Homo sapiens: one gene and its partner. The protein of the gene in region 2 interacts with the protein of the main gene of each other region in a pairwise test. Each region holds a gene or a part of one and is shown on either strand. Other genes may lie near its edges.

What was found. Proteins that work in one complex are often made in the same cells at the same time.
Region 1: the proteins of CAPN15 (region 2) and CPEB2 interact in a two-hybrid assay, tested with the Homo sapiens proteins (one study listed by BioGRID).

What each region holds. Positions count from the first base shown.
Region 1 is NC_000004.12:15,047,480-15,054,504, forward strand, and holds part of CPEB2 (cytoplasmic polyadenylation element-binding protein 2), read left to right. Parts: intron 1-4,934; coding exon 4,935-5,105; intron 5,106-6,648; coding exon 6,649-6,738; intron 6,739-7,025. UniProt on the Homo sapiens protein: May play a role in translational regulation of stored mRNAs in transcriptionally inactive haploid spermatids. Binds to poly(U) RNA oligomers. Required for cell cycle progression, specifically for the transition from metaphase to anaphase.
Region 2 is NC_000016.10:544,687-551,711, forward strand, and holds part of CAPN15 (calpain-15), read left to right. Parts: exon of another isoform or gene 1-1,951; coding exon of another isoform or gene 1,952-2,152; coding exon 2,153-3,601; intron 3,602-4,306; coding exon 4,307-4,515; intron 4,516-4,601; coding exon 4,602-4,785; intron 4,786-4,928; coding exon 4,929-5,152; intron 5,153-6,615; coding exon 6,616-6,741; intron 6,742-6,825; coding exon 6,826-6,978; intron 6,979-7,025.

The sequences.
Region 1 (7,025 bases), on a different chromosome or scaffold from region 2:
GTTAAGTTTATTTGTCAGTATTTGGTGGGTTTGGATGAGGTATGGAAATGATATTTAAAATTTTTCCCAGTTTATTACTAGCATTTAGAAATAATTTGGTTTTTGTAAATTGAATTTGCATTTCTTCCCTAGATAAATACAATTATTTCTACTAGTTTGATTTCTTCGAATTTTACATGTACAATTATGTCTATACTAAGTAATTTTATTTTTCTTTGCCAGTGTTCATGACTTTAAATTATTTTTTTCATCTTCTTTGATTTGTTGTACCTCCAGTAGTACAATGCTGAGTAGAAATAGAGTGAACATCCTTCCAAACCTTCAAGAGAAACCATTTGATAATTTATTATTACAGACTTTCACTCTTTTTTTTTTAAATGCTCTTTATTGGATTGAAGAAATTCCCTCCTACTCCTAGTTTTCTGGGAGTTGTGGTTTTTTTTTTTTTAATTATGAATAGCTGTTGAGTTTTATCAGATGCATTTCCTACATTTATGGAAATAATTTTATGGTATTTCTATTTTTGTCTGTTTATGTAGTACAATTAACAGTAATTGGTTTTAAAATGATAAATCAATCTTACGTTCCTGGGGTGAACCCCACTTAATCATGATTTGTTTTCCATTTTTATCTATACTTCTGGATTCATTCTGCCAATATATTTTTTAGGATTTTTGCATTTGTGTTCATGAGGGATATTGGTATATAGTTTCCTTATGTTTTTGTCAGATTTTAGTATTGCACTTGTAAAAAAAAGTTGTGAAGTGCTTCCTCTTTCTTTATTCTCTGGAAGAGTTTGTATAAAATTGCCATTTTTTCTTCTTCAAAAGTCTAGTTCATTTGCCAGTAAAGCCATCTAGGCCTGGATTTTTCTCTGTCGGAAGATTTTTTTATTTTAAGTTATGACTTTCATTTTTTTTTAGCAGACAAAGAACTTTTCAGATTTTTTCTCCCTGTGCCATTTTTGAAAAGCTGCATTTTTCAAGGGATTTGTTTCCTCTAGTTGTTAAATTTATTACCATAAAGTGGCTAATAACATTCTTTTTAATCTTTTAATGTTTGTAAGTTCTGTGTTGATTGATGTCTCTTTTTTGTTACTTTATTTCCTTCATCGTACTTTCTTTGTATTTTATTTGCTGTTCTTTTTCTAGCTTTTTGTGGTAGAAACAAGATGATTTGTTTTAAGCATGTCTTGTTTTCTAATATGCTTTTAAAACTATGAATTTTCCTTTGAGCCTGGCTTTTGCTGCATTCCAGCAAAATGAATTTGTTGTGTTTCATTATCATTCAGTTTTATTCCTTTGAGGTGTAAGAACCTGAAAACATACGTATGGTATCCTTCTTAGAAAGCATGTTTAAAGTATACTACAGTGGTAGATATAACTTATTTAATGGTTCTCCTTTTATTGTCATATTAATTTGGAATATGATAAAAGGATAATTGGCAAGGTAAAAGGTCAGACTTTGTCAATGATATATATTCAGTTAACTCTTCTTTTAAATGAGTATTTAAATCTGTAGCTTTTATGGCTTCTTGAAAAAAAGCAGTCATTATTGTCCAACAGTGAAGATTCTTGTTAGTATGGCTAGTGTGCAAAATGTTCTTAAACTTTTCGTTACATTCTTTGTTTAGCTGAACTTCGTTAATAGATTATAGATGTTTTTAGTTATATGAATACTAAGTAATATTTTATTATAGTAAACAAAAAGTTTGAGTCACTTTTGGGTCACTTTTCTCTTTGGCATTGCTTATAGTGTGATTTGTCACCGCATTCTTTTTTTTTTAATATAGACCCTAAGTATTTGTGATCCATATTTTTTCTCAACTTAAATGTCTGTTAGAAAGACATTTGAATACTTACTGTATTTATGACACTGCTAAGTTTTTATTTGTGTTAGGGCATTTTAAAGTGAAAAACTTTCCAAAGTATTGTACATCTGAAATAAATATAGAATTTGGATTTGTGATTTTTTTCCTTAAAATCGTTTGTATGTATGCTGTTTATCTTATTCCTTTTAAAGTAGAGAATTATTCAATTAAAGTCTAACCTTTAAAAGTTTGACCAGTTATTCACAATTAATATTATTTTTAGTGGACCTTGATGTTCATTTTATTGAGTAAAAATAGTTTCATGTTGAAGAGTTTCCTTTCTATTGATGACAAAAAATACTGACATTTTGTTTTACATTGCTTCCTGTTTCTAATAACAGCGGTATTTGAAAAGTTAAGCAATATTCACAAAGTTACTCAGTGAACATGGGTATTTTTCAGAACATCATATTTAAACAGCATTTGAATCTTTAGAATAATTCATTTCCTATATCAAATATCATCTTTCTCTCTGTTGTTGTGTCTTATAAACTAAATTTTTATGTCAAACATCTAGGTAGCTAGCTCCCTCACTCTGACAGGCATGTGGTCCCTTCCTTCTTGTCCCCAACCCATTCTGTTCAGGCTGTCACATTTCTAATTGTCTTTGTTTGTATCACTTGCATCATGTGTCATATTGTTCAAGATGTTCTATGGCATGTGATTTAATATATAAACAAATACCCAACATAAAACGGTCCGGTCCGTGGCCTGTTTGTTTAATATATAGACAGATACCCAACATAAAACCGATACTGGTCCATGGTCTGTTAGGAACCAGGCCACACAGCAGGAGGTGAGTGGAGGGCAAGTGAGCATTGCTGCCTGCCTGAGCTCCACCTCCTGTCAGATCAGCAGTAGCATTAGATTCTCACAGGAGCGTGAACCCTATTGTGAACTGCATGTGTGAAGGATCTAGGTTGTGTGCTCCTTATGAGAATCTAATGCCTGATGATCTGAGGTGGAACATTTTCATCCCAAAATCATCCCCCTGCTGTGGAAAAATTGTTGTCCACAAAACTGGTCCCTGGTGCCGAAAAGGTTGGGGATCGCTGCTATAGATTATATGCATTGTCTCCTATCCAAAAAAATCCTTCAGTTAATACTGAAAGAAAAACAACTTGTCCATATTCTTACTGTTTTTCCTTCTCTAACATACTTCTCTTCATTTGATCTCTATACGTAATAAAACTCTAAATACATGCAATGTGACTCCTACCCAACTTTCCTGAAACAGCTACCTTCACAGATCATGTATGTCCTCAAAAACAACTGTTTATTAAAAGTAATTATCTTAATATCTCACATTGTTACTTAATTGCTCTTTCGTTCTTTTATTGGTTTTTTGGTGCTTCTATTACCATGATATTTTGGCTGCCCTCCCACTTTTCTTACCACTCCTTTCTCTAACTCCTTGAATGTTCTGCTTCTTCCTTGTAAGTTTCCCAAGGAACTGTCCTCATCATTTCTCGCTGGAGTGTTTATCATTGATGTTATAAAGGACCTTAAACTATAACCCATGGAGTTGACTCCAAATTATTTTCTCAGAAATATGACATTTCTTTTCTCCACTTCCTTTTCAGCTTCCTACTATACATTTGCTTCTGAACATCCTAACAGCATATAAAACTTTACATCTAAAGCTTAAATTATTTTCCTTTCTTATACCAGTTTCTGGTCTTAACTGTCCTTATATCAGTTAATGGTTTTATCATTTTCTAAAGTCTTCCTTAGATCTCTCCTTTTTCATTCTTTCTCCCTATTTTGTTTCCTATCTGCTTGTGACTGCCATCCATCCTTTGTGGATTTTTTGCACAGCTTCTGATCTGCTCATTTTCAACTACCTTATCCATATTGACTAAGTCTCCCTAATGCATAGAAAAAGTTATAATCTTGATTGAATCCCTGTATCTAGTTTATTATCTTCACCACCTACTAAATGTCTCGTTAGCCTGTCATTCAATGCTAAATACTCTAGCCTCAAAGGGCTTTTCTGGCTTTTACTCTCCTTGTTTCCAACATATTTCAGCCAACCTTGACTATTCCTTATTTCTCAAGTAAGTTCAATTTTTCCTACATTTTCTTATGTTTCTCCTTTCACTTGGAAAAAAAGGAAAATTTACTGAAAACCATGTTCCTGTAAATATTTCCACCTATAGATATTCTCCTCTTTCTAATGCCTCACTATGTACTGCTATTTTTCTCTTTTTATCCCAAATGCTATTTAATTTCACTTAGAGATTTAGGAAATCATCCTTTTATTTGACTCCTTTCCTCCAGAATATGTCCTCTGAGCACTTTGAAGCTTTCTTATGGATGTGTACCATGGTTACATATATAGATCTTATCTTTCTAAATGTACATTCCTTGACAGCCAGGGAGTATATCAGGGCATTTAAGTTTTGTGGAGGGATTACCCACAGAGTGGGGATTACTTCAGAGGATTGTGCAGGATGTGCCCTATATAAGGATTACCTCCTGAAATGTGGGCTCAAATGGGCACTAACGTGCTAGAGGGGGTACCTTTTCTATTTTGCACATGTGCGGAAGCTCCGTCTACTGTTTCATGTAATTGGCACACGTGTAATAAATTAGGTGAAGACCTTGTATACAAGTATTACTTGTTCTCCTCATCCTTACTTACTGTAGTCTACAAGTGATTTTTTATAAATTATATCCCCTTATCTATTTAGTCTGTGTCATTTCCTTTCTGCCACCAGTTTCTGAAAAGTTTCTCCTGTTATATATCCATTCTAACTGTCCACATACATTAGGTTCTTGCTTATAACAAGTTCTTGCTCATAACAAGTTGAAGTGATCTAGTATCTCTTTTGCAGTTTAATTGTTGACATATGACTATGTTTATTTCTAAGTCACTCTTTAGATTGCTTCTTTCTTGAATCCAGGTAATTAAAACCACATGCTATTTAAATTTCTCTTAATTTTTATGTTCACCTGCATCACCTTCATTTTTAAGTCTTTGAATTTGTCATTGGTATTTTTATGCTTAAATTTATCATTTTCTCAGATCTGAGATTCAAGTTGTATTTGTTCTTTATTCTAGGTCGTTCTTCCCTCTTTCCAATAGATGATGGCTTGCTTGATGATGGTCACAGTGATCAAGTTGGAGTTTTAAATTCACCCACCTGTTATTCAGCTCACCAAAATGGAGAGCGAATAGAACGCTTCTCTCGAAAAGTTTTTGTTGGTGGTCTTCCTCCAGATATTGATGAAGGTATTTATTAAGATATTTATTAACATGGTGATTTGGGCTTTAACAAAAACAAAAAGATATGAAATTTAATGTGAATGGACTATGAAAGTTTTTACCACCTAGAGATTTTCAGAATTAGAATGCATTTTCTTCTTTTAAAATACTTTATCACCTGTTGAAATATGAAAGTAGTTGAACAAAAGCTTTTTTATTTTTCACTTTAGATCTTATCATATTTGTAACTGTGAGCATTTTTTGTAAATAAGATTTTCATGACCTAGGTCATATTCTACTTGTTTTTAAAATATAGAATATATTTAGGTATATAAAACTTAAAGCTTTTTGTATCACCATAATGTGTGCATGCACACATACACTGAAATAAATGGAACCAACCATAAGATAATATCTGCAATGCTTGGTAATCAAAAGTTTATTTTTATTTTTATTTATTTATTTATTTTTTTTTTTGAGGTGGAGTCTCGCTCTGTCTTCCAGGCTGGAGTGCAGTGGCGCAATCTCGGCTCGCTGCAAACTCCACTTCCCGGGTTCAAGCGATTCTCCTGCCTCAGCCTCCTGAGTAGCTGGGACTACAGGCGCCCGCCACCATGCCCCGCTAATTTGTTGTATTTTTAGGTGAGACGGGGTTTCACTGTGTTAGCCAGAATGGTTTTGATCTCCTGACCTCATGATCCGCCCACTTTAGCCTCCCAAAGTGCTGGGATTACAGGCATGAGCCACCATACCCGGCCAAAAGTTTAATTTCTTTAAGGATAAATGTGCTCTTAGAAACAGGGAAGAAAGAGGCTATTAAACCCGAAAGGGAAATGGAAACAGAACATGAATAGGAAATTAGGGTTTCACAAACACTAGTAATTGTATGTGATAACAAAAGAAAATTAATTGAAGACTTAAAATATTAAGCTATATTTGTGAGGTTATGGGAAATGTATCACTCATTCTTACATTTTAGGAAATTTTTTAGTTATGATTCAGATATCCACAAACTTAATTCTAAGTATTGATCTTCATAAGCTTTCTATGTAATGAAATAACGTAAGACATAGCAATTGGATGTAACCTATGTGGATTTCAGTGAAACTACCAGGCATGTATCAGACCCTTGTATATTTTTTCAACATTGTAGTTATTCAAGTCTTGTTTTAGCAGACCTTTTTTCCTATAATAAAATGATTTTATTTGTGAAGCAGTAATAGATTTTATTTATATATGTTGGCATTTTTTTCAATCCAGTGCTATTTGTGGTTTGGTGTACTATAAAGTCATTAGTATCCATACAATGTTATATAAAATTTTAAAATTCACATGGAATTGAGTATTCTAACCAATGCATTGCTTAAAAGTGAATTTATTTTGACAAAAATTGTTAATCTTGACATATTATTTTAATAAGTATATTAGACATATTCCCAGTGTTTATATTCTAATTTATCTTAAGGTATTTGGCACTTTTAAATGTTAAATCTTCATAGTAACAGTACAGAATTTCTTAGAACGAATCACTGAAACTAATTTCTAATGTGTATTATTGTACTTTCTTAAGATGAAATAACTGCTAGCTTCAGAAGATTTGGGCCTTTGGTAGTAGATTGGCCTCATAAAGCAGAAAGCAAGTCCTATTTTCCACCAAAAGGTAAGGATTGTTATTGTTAATATTTGCTAGGAAATTGGTTGTATGAGAGCAAAAGAAAGAATAGCAATTACTTAGCCAGTTAGGAATCATAAGAGACTTGCTATGATTTGATAATTTCATAGACTCAGATCAACAAATGTTTGAGTATTTTCTCTGTCTAAAGCATCATTTCAAGTAACTTGGGTATAGACATATGAAACAATATCTCTCTGCATTATGAAATTAAGATCTATGTGAAGTGATTGGTCTTTCATAAAATATAAATTTATGAACAGTTGAAATATCAG
Region 2 (7,025 bases):
CCGTCGCCTCCCCCACGTCGCCTCCCCCACGTCGCCTCCCCCACGTCGCCTCCCCCACGTCGTCGCCTCCCCCACGTCGCCTCCCCCACGTCGTCTCCCCCACGTCGTCGTCTCCCCCACGTCGCCTCCCCCACGTCGCCTCCCCCACGTCGCCTCCCCCACGTCGCCTCCCCCACGTCGCCTCCCCTCACGTCGTCGTCTCCCCCCACGTCGTCGTCTCCCCTCACGTCGTCTGCCCTGAGCCCGCTCCCTTCGAAGGTAACCATCCTGCAGTAGTGAGGGCTCCTTGCTGAGCACGTGTGGCTGCGACTTCAGGAGCGTTCTGGGTTGAGAATTCCAAAAGGGCTTCGCTCAGGCCTGGCTTTGGGTCTTTGGGCTCCTGACGCGAGCTTTTACTTCCAGGCTTTGGCGGTCTGGCCTCAGGAGGTCAAGGCTGCAGTGAGCCGTGCGCGAGCCACTGCACCATCCTGGGCAATCAGACCCCATCTCTAAAGTTCAAAACAACATCTTTGTAAGGGTTTCGGGTCTCTGAGCCCATGAACCTGCCCAGGCCCTGCAGAGGTGAGGGTGGCCCTAGAGTGGCTGGGGGGTTGTGGAGACCAGAACCAGGGCAGAAGGGCAGGGAGGGTGGGGGCCCTGCCGAGGTCTCCCACCGCTGACCCCTGACCCCTGGCCCCCTTCCACCTCGGCCCACCGAGAGAGGCCGGCACAGCGCAGACTGCGGGGTCAGTGACACTCCCCTCAGCGTCTCCAGCCACAGAAGGGCCGTGGCCTGCCTTCGCCCTCCTCACCCGTGTCCCGGGGCCACGTTTGAACTTTAGGCCTTGTTCTGACTTCATTGAAACCCTCCTGAAGTGCAGACGTCTTCCTGACCCACCTGGGTTTTGCCAGGATGACTCCGAAAGGTGTCTCCCAGCAGACACACCCCGCTGGCGATTGTTTGGTCCTGGGGACCCGGGTTCTCATTCTCCTCTCTGGAGCTGGTGAGGCTGTCCTTGCTAGTCGGTGACAACTACAGGGCCAAAGGGAGGGTGTGTCCCAGGAGGCCCAGCCCACCTCTGCCTGCACCTGCGGTCAGCGGGGTGCAGAGTCTGTGAAGGCACCTCCCGGAGTGGGGGCTGCAAAGATCATGGCCACTGTGCCACCCACAGGGGCCCAGGCCGGACGCCTGGGCTGTGCCGCCTCGGCAGCCAGGCCGAGGAACGTGCAGGTGCGGCCGGGAGCCCGCCGGCCACAGCTGCATCCATGCCCTTCTCCGAGTGGTGATGGCGGGGAGAGGCCTGGCTGTCTACGGGCAGATTGCTTGGGCTTTCACAGAAGCCCGCTGTTAGAGCAGATTCCCGGCCTTGGGTCTCTCTGCTCCAGCTGGACGCCCTGAGCCTCGCCGGGCCCAGTCCACCCCCGTCCACTCTGCCAGGGGCAGCTCAGAGCCCTCGCCACGCGGGGCTGAGCGCAGGGAAGGCAGCATCACGGAGTTCGCTCGGCTCCACAGAACACCCGTGTTGCTCGCGGAGACTTTTTGTTTTTGTGCTTCTTATGAAGAGGCAGGTTTTCTTTCTTCCTGAACCAAAAGGGTTTAGATGGAGCACAAGATTCAGGCCATATTTACAAGAACAATTGATTTTTCTGCCAGGCAGAGCAGCCAGTCTGTCTCGGAGGCTGTGCTGTGGTGTGGGGAGGCCCCTTGCTCAGATCAGCCTGTGCCTTCCCCAGGCCCCGGCCCATGCACCTGCCCTTCCGTAGGTCTGAGCACCTGTTCTTCCACGCCCAGGACGACCTGGTCCTGAGTTTGGCCGGGACCCCCTGCTATCTGCCGTCCACAGGCCTGGTGACAGAGAAAGCAGTGCCCTGGAACAGCAGCCCGGCTGTGGGGTGCTCAGCCCTCTCTGTAGGATCCTGTGTGGCTCAAGGGGTCTGCTGAGCCTCCAACGGGCAAGAGGGGCCCTGAGCCATGGATCCATTCTGGGTGGAGGCAGCCCCCACCGCCGCCTGCCTCAAATGCTCAGCCCTAGGCCCTCGGCCCCGTAGCTCTGCAGCCACAGACGGGTGCCTTCCCCAGGCCGAGAGGAGGGTGGGGTCCAGCCACTCAGGACCTCACAGGGTGGCCCTGATGAGCACCTTCCCTTGCAGCCACACCCACTCGCCCGGGTCTATGGCCACGGTCGGAGAGTGGTCCTGTGTGCGCTGCACCTTCCTGAACCCGGCCGGCCAGCGCCAGTGCTCCATCTGCGAGGCTCCCCGGCACAAGCCCGACCTCAACCACATCCTGCGGCTCAGCGTGGAGGAGCAGAAATGGCCCTGCGCCCGCTGCACCTTCCGCAACTTCCTGGGCAAGGAGGCCTGCGAGGTGTGCGGCTTCACCCCGGAGCCTGCGCCTGGGGCTGCCTTCCTGCCAGTCCTCAACGGGGTCCTCCCCAAGCCACCCGCCATCCTGGGGGAGCCCAAGGGCAGCTGCCAGGAGGAAGCAGGTCCAGTGAGGACTGCGGGGCTGGTGGCCACGGAGCCCGCCAGGGGGCAGTGCGAGGACAAGGACGAGGAGGAGAAGGAGGAGCAGGAGGAGGAGGAGGGAGCGGCGGAGCCCAGAGGGGGCTGGGCGTGTCCGCGTTGCACGCTGCACAACACGCCCGTGGCCAGCTCCTGCTCCGTCTGCGGGGGCCCACGCAGGCTCTCGCTGCCACGGATCCCTCCTGAGGCCCTGGTGGTCCCGGAAGTGGTGGCCCCGGCCGGCTTCCACGTCGTGCCTGCCGCGCCTCCACCTGGCCTCCCCGGGGAAGGTGCCGAGGCCAACCCCCCAGCCACCAGCCAGGGCCCAGCTGCCGAACCAGAGCCGCCCAGGGTCCCGCCCTTCAGCCCCTTCTCGTCCACCCTGCAGAACAACCCCGTGCCGCGCAGCCGACGCGAGGTTCCCCCCCAGCTGCAGCCACCGGTGCCTGAGGCTGCCCAGCCGTCACCCTCTGCCGGCTGCAGGGGAGCCCCCCAGGGCTCGGGCTGGGCTGGGGCCTCCCGCCTAGCAGAGTTGCTGTCTGGCAAGCGGCTGAGTGTGCTGGAGGAAGAGGCCACGGAGGGTGGCACCAGCCGCGTAGAGGCCGGCAGCTCCACCTCGGGCAGTGACATCATTGACCTGGCCGGAGACACCGTGCGTTACACGCCCGCCAGCCCCTCCAGCCCCGACTTCACCACCTGGTCATGTGCCAAGTGCACGCTCAGAAACCCCACAGTGGCCCCCAGGTGCTCGGCCTGCGGCTGCTCCAAACTGCACGGCTTCCAGGAGCATGGCGAGCCCCCCACCCACTGCCCCGACTGTGGGGCCGACAAGCCCAGCCCCTGCGGCAGAAGCTGCGGACGGGTGTCCTCGGCCCAGAAGGCCGCCCGCGTCCTGCCCGAGCGCCCGGGCCAGTGGGCCTGCCCTGCCTGTACCCTGCTCAACGCACTGCGGGCCAAGCACTGCGCCGCCTGCCACACGCCTCAGCTCCTGGTGGCCCAGCGGCGGGGGGCCGCGCCCCTGAGGCGCAGGGAGAGCATGCACGTGGAGCAGCGGCGGCAGACAGACGAGGGCGAGGCCAAGGCACTCTGGGAGAACATCGTGGCCTTCTGCCGGGAGGTGAGGCGCCCCCTCGCCCTCTTCCTGCTCCTGAGCCTCCTGCTCCCGCCCTCCCCTTCCTAGGCTTTGGGCTCTGGCGATGGGCTGGGGAGGAGCCCACAAGGCCTAAGACGTGATGGGGAGGGCAGCACCCTCCGCCCCGAGGCTCCAAGCTCCCAATGGCCCTGGGGTCCAGCTTGGCCTCCTGACCCTTGGTCCTTGCTGGTGACCGAGATGCACGACCTTCACCCCCCTCAACCCTCCACCGTGGCCAGGAGGGCCCCGAGCCCCGTCTGATGTGCCGCAGGAGGCGAGGGCTTCCCAGGGGCAGCGTGGAGACCCCGCTGAAGTGCGAGGTCGGGATGTACCCGTGCTCCGCCCTCTAGAGTCCAGGATGGCATCACCCACGGGTCAACTGGGGCGCAGCCTGCACCCTCCCCAGCAGGGCCAGGGCCAGAGTCGTGCTGCCACCCACTGGGGGCTGCGCTGTCCCCCTGGGCCCACACGTCCCCTGCTCCTCACCTGTCGCCAGCCGGTGGCCTCTCCACTAGGGCTGAGGGCTTCCTCGACACAGGGCCGGCGCCAGGTCTGTGGCTGTCCACGCTCCACCCGTCCCTTTGGGGCTCAGGCAGTGCTTTTGGGCGCTCTCCTGGGTGGGGTCTTGTCCCTGCCAGGTGGAGCGAGGCCACCCTGCCCAGCCTGAGCACATGGCCGTGGTCTCTGCAGAACAATGTGAGCTTCGTGGATGACAGCTTCCCTCCCGGGCCCGAGTCTGTCGGCTTCCCCGCGGGTGACAGCGTGCAGCAGCGTGTGAGGCAGTGGCTGCGACCCCAGGAGATCAACTGCTCCGTCTTCAGGGACCACAGGGCCACGTGGTCTGTGTTCCACACACTGCGGCCCTCAGACATCCTGCAGGGGCTGCTGGGGAACTGCTGGTGAGGCCTTCTCCAAGGCCGGGGTGGGGCGGGTGGGCGGGCGACCGGCCGCGGTCCCCGCGAGGTCACCCTGAGGCTCTGCGCAGGTTCCTGAGCGCCCTGGCGGTGCTGGCGGAGCGGCCGGACCTGGTGGAGCGGGTGATGGTCACGCGCAGCCTGTGTGCAGAGGGCGCCTACCAGGTGCGGCTGTGCAAGGACGGCACGTGGACCACGGTGCTGGTGGACGACATGCTGCCCTGTGATGAGGCCGGCTGCCTCCTCTTCTCACAGGTGGGGCGGCCTGCAGGGTGGGCACGGGCGGCAGGGGCAGCCTCTGACCCCAGCCCCGAAAACAAGGCCGGCTGCTTCCTCTTCTCCCAGGGCGGGTAGTGTGGGGGGCGGGCGGGGGTGGCCTCTGACCCGGCCCTCTGCAGGCGCAGCGGAAGCAGCTGTGGGTGGCCCTCATCGAGAAGGCGCTGGCCAAGCTGCACGGCTCCTACTTTGCGCTCCAGGCGGGCCGCGCCATCGAAGGCCTGGCCACGCTCACCGGCGCCCCCTGTGAGAGCCTGGCGCTGCAGCTCAGCTCCACTAACCCCCGCGAGGAGCCCGTTGACACTGACCTCATCTGGGCCAAAATGCTGAGTTCTAAGGAGGCTGGGTAAGAGGAGGGGCACTGCGTGGTCAGCCGCGTTGGGAGGAGAGGCGAGGCGGAGCGGTGGGAGATGTGGGGCTGGTGGCCCCTGACCCAGTTCTGCTTCCACGAGGTGCCCCTGGCGTGGGCTGACCCCGCGTGGCCAGGCCACAGCCCCAATCACCTCCCCCTCCCTGGGCGGGGCTGGAGCTGGCCTTCTCATGCCAGGAAGGCCACATCCTGGCCAGGCCGTGGGGCGAGACCGATGCCGTCACCCCGGAGCAGGTGTGAGCGGCGTGTCGAGTTTGACCTGGGCCGTGGGGCGAGACTGATGCCGTCATCCGCCTCGGGGCAGGCGTGAGCGGCGTGTCGAGTTTGGCCACACTCTGGTCAGCGGGTCTGTGCCTCGACCCCCAGGGGCCTCCTCGGAGTGCCCCGGTGCGAGCACCTTGAAGCTCCCGGAGCCCTCCTCTCAGCTGACCCTGGGCAGTGCTGCTGCCCACCCCCCACCCGCCCGGGAGCCACAGAGCCCAGAGCCAGCCCCACAAGGCCTCCAGGGGACCCAGGCCTGCCACCCCTGACTCAGGCCCTGTGCGCTTCAGGCATGGTGGAGGGGGCTGGTCCAGACCCTCCTGAACACTTCACGTGGTCCCTACAGGCAGGAGTGGGCCCTTCTCTGCTGCGCCTGCCTGTCTTGGTGGCAAGGTCGCGGCCAGCGAGGGCACTGGTCAGCAAGGCCCCGGTCAGTGAGGGCCCCGCTCAGCCATGCCCCCAGTCGGTGAGGGCCCCACTCAGCCATGCCCCTGGTTAGTGAGACCCCCTGTCAGTGAGGGTTCCCTGTCGGTGAGGGTCCCCGGTCGGTGAGGGCCCCCAGTCGGTGAGGGTCCCGGTCGGTGAGGGTCCCCTGTCGGTGAGGGTCCCCGTCGGTGAGGGTCCCGGTCGGTGAGGGTCCCCTGCCGGTGAGGGTCCCGGTCGGTGAGGGTCCCGGTCGGTGAGGGCCCCGGTCGGTGAGGGTGCCCCGTCGGTGATGGCCCCGGTCGGTGAGGGTCCCGGTCGGTGAGGGTCCCCTGTCGGTGAGGTCCCTGGTCGGTGAGGGTCCCGGTCAGTGAGGGTCCCCTTTCGGTGAGGGTCCCCTGTCTGTGAGGGCCCCGGTCGGTGAGGGTCCCCTGTTGGTGAGGGTCCCGGTCGGTGAGGGTCCCCTGTCGGTGAGGGCCCCGGTCGGTGAGGGCCCCGGTCGGTGAGGGTCCCCGGTCGGTGAGGTCCCCGGTCGGTGAGGGCCCCGGTCGGTGAGGGTCCCCGGTCGGTGAGGGCCCCTGTTGGTGAGGGCCCCGGTCGGTGAGGGCGCCCCGTCGGTGAGGGTCCCGGTCGGTGAGGGCCCCGGTCGGTGAGGGTCCCCAGTCGGTGAGGGTCCCGGTCAGTGAGGGTCCCCGGTCGGTGAGGGTCCCCTGTCGGTGAGGGTCCCGGTCGGTGAGGGCCGCTCTGCCACACAGGTTCCTCATGGGTGCCTCCTGTGGCGGGGGCAACATGAAGGTGGACGATTCGGCCTACGAGAGCCTGGGCCTGCGCCCCCGGCATGCCTACTCCATCCTGGATGTCCGAGATGTCCAGGGCACCAGGTAGGGCCGGCCTGGCTGAGGGTGGGTGGGGTGCCGGTGAGACTCGGGCAGTGTGGTTCAGATCCTCACCCCTGTGGTCTGCAGGCTTCTGCGGCTCCGAAACCCGTGGGGCCGTTTCTCCTGGAACGGCAGCTGGTCCGACGAGTGGCCACACTGGCCGGGGCACCTGCGTGGCGAGCTCATGCCGCACGGCAGCAGTGAGGGTGTCTTCTGGATGGAGTACGGCGACTTTGTCAGGTATCGGCACCGTGGGGCGGTGTGCACGCCGCCCCCGCCCTCCTAGG